2 linked regions of the Homo sapiens genome follow. The protein of the gene in region 2 purifies or fractionates together with the protein of the main gene of each other region. This does not show direct contact. Each region holds a gene or a part of one and is shown on either strand. Other genes may lie near its edges.

Region 1 (3,655 bases), on a different chromosome or scaffold from region 2:
ATGAATTCCTCTGTGTACCAAGAAGCCTTGCTAGAGACTTTACACACATTATTATCTCATGGAAGTCTTCTCAACAACCTGTGAAGTAGGCAGATTATTCTCCATTTACTCTTAACAAAATGGCACTGAGAGGACTGCGTAACTTGCTCAGTCAGGATTATTTAGCAGAGTGAGTAGAACCCCAGAATAGGTACAGTTGAGTCTAGAGGGTCCCCAAAGCAAAAGTACTATTTAAGCTCTGTTTACTGCCATGATTCAAGCCTATACTGTCAGTGCTTATTTGGCATGTGTATCATCTTGATTTGAATTCGTTCTTAATCTCCTGGAATGAGCATTGCCTTTTAGATCTGGTAACTAATTTGCTATCAGAGAAGTACATTCTTAACACCTCATGAAACATACATTTCCTGCTCCCTTGATTTCCGTCATGTTAATATTTTCTCTCTTTGCCTACTAAATCTTGGCTGTGTGAATTTAGGACCTATTTTAAGTTTTGTCTTCAGAAGAAAATAACTTCTCAAGTTAATAATCTCTGTGCTGGGAGGATATTAGCAATTATCTAATATATCTGTCTACGGCAACGCACGTTTGTATTCCATTTCAGTTTGTCACAATGAGTCTTGCACATATCATCTTATTTATTCCTCTTAGTGATATCAGGAGGTAAATAAATACATAAGAAAAGCTGAGATTCAGAGAGGTTGTAAATACCTTGCCTCATATAACACAGCTAGTAAATGGTCAAGATGAGATTAGAATCCAAGGACTTCTGACCCACTTTAAGTCCATTGTACTTTCTGTGATGAGCAGTTGTATGCTTAACATTGGCATTGTGATTAGGAACACTGCCATATAAGGCATTGATTCTAGAAAGTTTGTTTTTTACATTGAACCTAAATGTGATTCTTTAACTTTTATCTGTTGATTCTAGATTTGCCTCTGGAGCAACACAGAATGAATTATCCTATGCCTCTTCTACAGCATGTCACTACAGTTATTTAAAAACTATTACCCTCATGTCTCCCTCACCCTACCTCACCCAGTTTGCTCTGCCAATCACAACTCAGATTCTTTTCATCTTAACATTGTTTCTAACCTCATCCTGCTGTACTGCTCACTGTCCTTTGAAGGGCCTTTAGTTTGTTAGTCTCCTTCAGAATGAACACTTACTTCAGATGCAGAGGAGCATGGGCCTAGTACCAACTTCATTATAAATAATGTGCTTATATTGTATAGCTTAACAAATTGCTTTTTTGTTTGTTTTTTTCAGCACTCTCACAGTGTTGACTCTTGTTGAACTTAACATCAATCTAGCTTCCCAGGTCTTTTTCACATTAGCTTTTATTAAGCCAAGTCTCTCTTATCCTGAACTTGTGTGGTTGGTTTTTTGTTTTTGTTTTTCTTGTTCCTTTTTCTAAGACTTTACATTTCTCTTTAGATTGTTTTCTAGTTAGGTTTGCACCATCATTTCAGTCTGCTGAAATCTTGGTCAATGATGATTATATTGTTTTAGGTATGTGATATCCCTCTTCAGCATTTTCATCTGCAGCTTTGATAAGGATGGCTTTTTAATCCTTGAATTGGATCCTACTCACATTATCCACCTTGTTTTGAAAACGTTTCCCCTAACTAGCTTATGTCATTGCCATTTCAGTCACCCCCTGCTGCTTTTGCTCACTCAGCCCTTATAGAGTATAGTTTGGGACTGTTACCCAGGCATAGTTCTTTTTCTCCAGTGTAACTAGGTAAAAAATCAGTGGGAAGCTGGTTAGTGAGTGAACAAGACTGAGGTAAGAATAATCTATACTATTAAGGAAACCTGTGAACTTCTTGTATTTCTAATTCAGATTTTGCTATCAAACATATAACTGATATGAGAAGCCACTTTTTTTAAATAATCAAAGCTGATTAGAAAAACAAGAGTTTAGAACACAACTAAACAAATTTACTGATAACATGCTGTTACAAATAAAGTACTGTAAATGGCTTTGAGTTTTTGCAAAATCCAGATTTAAGCTGCTTTATAAAAACGAGATTTCTAAAAAGTCATGTGACAAAACTGCATGACATGTAAATAACATATCACATTGTTGAGAGTCTAGGGGAGCTGTTTTGACACTGTGTATATCATTGGATTCACTCAGTCTTCCAGAAGACTACCGTTGGTCCAGAAAACTGTCATATCAATGGATGTTGGTTTTCCAGGACCTTTTTTTTCACATATAATAAAACTTATTGAAACGTAACAGAGAAGTGCACAATTTTAAGTGTTCAGCTTAGTGAATTTTCACAAAATAAAGACACACATTGGCCAGGTGCGGTTGCTCATGCCTGTAATCCCAGCACTTTGGGAGGCTGAGGGGGGAGCGGATCATGAGGTTAAGAGTTCGAGACCAGCCTGGTCAATATGGTGAAACCCCATCTCTACTAAAAAATACTAAAATTAGCTGGCATGGTAACATGCGCCTGTAGTCCCAGCTACTTGGGAGGCTGAGGCAGGAGAATTGCTTGAACCCGGGAGGCGGAGGTTGCAGTGAGCCAAGATCGTGCCACTCTACTCCATCCTGGGTGACAGAGTGAGACTCCGTCTCAAAAAAAAAAAAAAAAAAAAAGGCACACATGGTATCACTACTAGATCAAGAAATAGGAATTACTGGTGCCCAAGAAATCTCCCTCATCCCCCTCAGTTATTTTCTAATACCCCAAAGATAACTGCTATACTGAGCCATAGATTAGTTTTGCCTATTTTTGAACTTCATGTGAGTGAAATAATACTGTATGTACTCATGAGTCTGGCATCTTTCACTTGACATTGTATTATTGTGAGAGTCATCCATGTTGTGTGTAGTAGTAGTTTATTCCCGTTCCTGTACAATAGTTCATTGTATGAATATAACACAATCTGTTTATCCATTTTAATATTAATGGTCATTGAAGTTTTTTGGTTATTATGAAAAGTGCTGCTGTGTGTCTTTTGATGCTGTATGTGTCCCTTTAGATGTATGTGTTTGTTTGTGTGTGTTTAATTTTGTTTGGATATCTATTAAGGATTGGAATTGCCTGATTATAGAGTATATACATGTTCTGCGTTAATGGGTATTGTTAAACATTTTTCCAAAGTGGTTGTTTCAGTTTATATTCTCACCAGCAGTGTTTCAGTGTTTCAGTTTTTTTGCATCCTTATCAACACTTGGTATTGTTAAACTTTTAAGGTTTAGCAATCCTAGTGGATGTTTAGTGGTATCATGATAATGGATTTAATTTACATTTCCCTGATGACTAATGAGGTTTCACTTTTTTTATTTGATTATTGTTAATTTGTATTTCCTCTTTTATGAAATGCTGATTCAAGTCTTTTTCCCATTTTTTGACTAGGTTTTATGTCTTACTGATTTTGTAGGAGTTCTTTGTGAATTCTACACATCAGTTTTTTATCCATTATATGTATTACAAATTTCTCACTGCAGGACTTTTTATTTTCTTAATGAGCACTTGAATGTAAACGCTGCATGCTGGGTACAGTGGCTCATGCCTGTAATCCCAGCACTTTGGGAGGCTGACGCGGGCAGATCACTTGAGGTCAGGAGTTTGAGACCAGCGTGGCCAACATGGTGAAGCCCCAGCTCTACCAAAAATACAAAAATTAGCTAGGCAT
Region 2 (3,755 bases):
CTGCTCAGGGTACCATATTTGCCTTCTCTGACAAATTTACTAACAGTTTTCTCCTTCCCTTTTATTGATCATGGATAATTATATGGTTCCACCCTTTACCCTTAACTTGTAGTTTCTGCAATCACTTTTATTTACATGACTTCTCAATATGTGTCTTGATATCTTTTTCTCAGCTCTGATCTCATGCTGATGACTCACTACTGACCATTTGCTCTTACATGTACTTTCAGCACATGAAAGTCAGGTCTAAATTCTACCTCTTTATTTATCTCTTTACTTCCTTATTTCTAGGCCCTGGGGTTGAGACTTTAGTAACCTTTGACACTTGGTCTTCCCTCTCGATTCTTCCTTTATAACCATTAATCTAGCAAATTTATTAATCCTCTATCACTACAAATACTTGAGGCCTAAAGAGACAAGGTTGTCCCAACTAACAGATAAACAGGTTTGATTTTTTTAATTCAAGGAAATGTTCTTGTGCAGAGTAGGATAATAAAAGTAACCATTTAATATAACTCGTGAAAACTAATGGCATTAATATGTGTAAAGCATTTAGGATAGTTCCTAGCACATGGTCAGCACTTACAAAGTATAACATATTAGTACTAGTATTAGTATTCTTAATACTAATGATACTAAAATATGATTGGATGATGTTTTTTAAAATGTCAGCTTTGCACTTTGTGCAGATTACTCATTTTCTACAAATGACATAATGTATATAAAACTTTCTGCACAGTGGTTGATACATATGTGTTTATACATGGTAATTATTCCCCAACATAGACCTCCAAGGTCCCATCTAACTCTAGAATTCTATATTAAATACATATATAATTTATGCATAGGTTTGTATATCAATGAGTTGAAAATAATAAAAGTAAAGTCAGATTAAGTATAATGCAGAAACAGATTACTGCTGATATTGCTTTCTCAGGAGTGAATGAAGGCCATTTCAAATGAAGACCTTTCAGTTGCCATCTTTTTTCTCTGATCAGGTTCTGTAATTTCTTATGAAACTTGTACTTGGTCTTCTTGGTATGCTGTGATGGTTGCTGCAGTTGGGTCCAACCTTGTGCCACCAGAAGTCTGAGGGTTAATGTGTGTGTGTGAGAAACATTGTATTGACTCATATTCATGTGTCACATATGAAATCACACAAATTAGAATGTAATTTTGAAAAGTTAGGAAAAAATAGAAATAAATAAAACAAAGAAGCACTATACAGAAATCCAAGTTTTGGAAGGAGGGCAGTTCTGCAACAAAAGGAACAGAGTTAAGAATAGTTCTTCCTACACTGCTTCCTGCTTGGGCTTCATCTGCTCCTCAGGCAACAAGACTTTAGTAAAGCCCCAGTTGAGAGGATTTTGAAGAGTAGTTTCCATGGCAACAGGCTTTAAAATGACATACATCCAGAAGAACTTTTCTTGGTTGTTCTACCATCCAAACAGGAATCCTCTAAGGCTCCCAGAGAAAAGTCAACTTTTAATGAAGCCGGAGTCTTGCTTTCTGTGCCCTAAGGAGCACCTTTCCTGTGGGACTCATTTCATGCTTGTAATAATGACTTATTTTCTTAAATTGTGAGTTGACTACAGTGGGAATGAGAGCAAGGATTGAGGTTTCTCATAATCACTGAGGGAGTGGCAGATTTCTAGGTATAAGAGTTACACTTGAGGCATCTTGTTTCTGAGCAGTGACTAAAATACATTCCACATGTGGCAGAGGAGCAAGCTCTGAGGTATGTTCAAATGTTACCCAGCACTTATACACAAAACACACACACGTGTGTGCGCACACACACCCACTACACACACAGGACTGGAAGAAGGGTGGTAATTAGCTTGCTGCATGGAGGTCAGACAGCTGCCAATGGGGCTCTAATTGTGAAGCCACCACTTCAGCTGCCTTATCCTGACCAAAATGTACCTCTCATTAACTGAGTGCTGTTTGAAATTTCATAACTAGAGATCTATTTTTTTTTTGCTAAAGACTTTGTCTTCATTTTAAGAAATGCCTGGAAGAGGGTGAAGAATGTGGATTGTCCCCAGCAAGTTGTAGTAGACTGTGTGCTGATGAATTTGTGAGATTCTTCTTGAAAACTTAGTTTTGACAGAGAATTGAAGGAAAGTAGCACTAAGATTGTGAATGTTGGGGAAGAGGAATTTTTGCTGAGACTAGGAGACTAGAGATGGGTATAGGAAGAGAAAATGGGAGGCTGTAAAGAAACCCTTACCTGATTTTGGAATTTGGCTTTTGTGGTGTGATAGAATGTGGATATTTGAAAAATAGGCATTGGTGGTAGGACAGGAAGTAGGGACAGGGTAATATACTCAAGGGCCTGATGTTGTCTGTGGATTGGGTTATGTTGGAGAGACAGGCCTTAAAGTTTGAAGAGTGTATTGTTCCCAGGCTCTTCTCACTCTTGTCAGCTGTCTCCTCTGCCCTATGGCAGACCCTCTCTTGTCTCTTTCAGGCTCATTCAGCTTTAAGCAAGATTTTTCCTTCCCTCATGCCATCCCTAGGATATATGCATTTCATATTTGTTTTATGTCTATTTTCTACAGCATTTATCAGGGCTCTTTCTTTTGTCAACCACTCTTCTCGGCTCTTCCACTTTCATGATTTAATTTAACTCTCACAACAACGACACTGTGAATTATCGCCATCATCCCCATTTTATAGATGAGGAGATTGAGAATTAGAGATTAATGAACATTTTGTGAGCTATATGATTCAAAGATATAAAAGTGAATAAAACTACAATGTTGCTAGCATCATTATAGTTCATGGAGGGACAGGACAGTAATACATTGTGAGTAGAGCTGCAAGAGATCTAAGAACAAAGTACTGTAGGATTTGTCGTGGCTAATCCCTATTAAGGTGTGAGCCGATAATTATTTGAGATTACTCCTTCTGGCATTTAGGTGTTTTGATAGGTCATGCTCAAGACATAAAAATTCTCTGAAACATGGTACTGAATAATTTCAGGTCCTTGATGAATTTACTGATGCATATTTAGTTTCTTGTCCTGGAATCAAAGAGACTTGGGTGAGGATGCTTCCTCCCAGGTGGAGTAAGGAACATTTTGTTGAAACCTGATCCGAATACTGTTTTAGGAGTACCTTAGCTGGGATTTCCATAAAAAGCTGTGCTGGGGACAAGGCCATACATGCAGATAGCTTATTTTTAGAAGTCATCCCAGGGAAAAGAGAGAGAGAAAAACAGGGAAGTATAGAAAACCAATAAAAGGTTCTGTTATATGTTACCTTAATGGGGAATTTAGGATTAGTTCCTCTGAGATCTTTTGATGTACTAAGAAGAATGAACCACTGGAGATACACAAAAGGGAGACATTTACCCACTGACTCCCAGGGGTGTTAATTCCTTCACGCTTACAGATCAGCACGTGCACCATAATGGCTGAATGGATTCTCAGATGTACCACTTTGTGGTGGCAGAGGTGTCCTAGGGCTGAAAGGAGGGGATACGTAGTGTAGTCAAGAAACATTGTTATTGGGCTATAGCTGGATGCAGCTCACTGCCACAGCAACAGCAGAAGCCCAAAAGATAGGCTGAGTAATATAAAATGAGGCATAAAACATGTGCAACACAGAGAGCTTGGTGATGGGACCTGAACTCAGACCTGGTGAAAATATTCAGGATAGTAGGCAGAGAACAACACAGCTAGAAGACAGGGCCAGCGTTATGTGACTTGTCATGTGCTAAAAAGCTTAGAAAGGCCTTTTGCTCCATTT

What was found. Proteins that work in one complex are often made in the same cells at the same time.
Region 1: the proteins of OR8B8 (region 2) and YLPM1 purify together in Homo sapiens (affinity purification with mass spectrometry; one large-scale study listed by BioGRID and IntAct). This does not show direct contact.

What each region holds. Positions count from the first base shown.
Region 1 is NC_000014.9:74,783,771-74,787,425, forward strand, and holds part of YLPM1 (YLP motif-containing protein 1), read left to right. Parts: intron 1-3,655. UniProt on the Homo sapiens protein: Plays a role in the reduction of telomerase activity during differentiation of embryonic stem cells by binding to the core promoter of TERT and controlling its down-regulation.
Region 2 is NC_000011.10:124,443,559-124,447,313, reverse strand, and holds the start of OR8B8 (olfactory receptor 8B8), read left to right. Parts: upstream 1-1,617; 5' UTR 1,618-1,738; intron 1,739-3,755. UniProt on the Homo sapiens protein: Odorant receptor. May be involved in taste perception.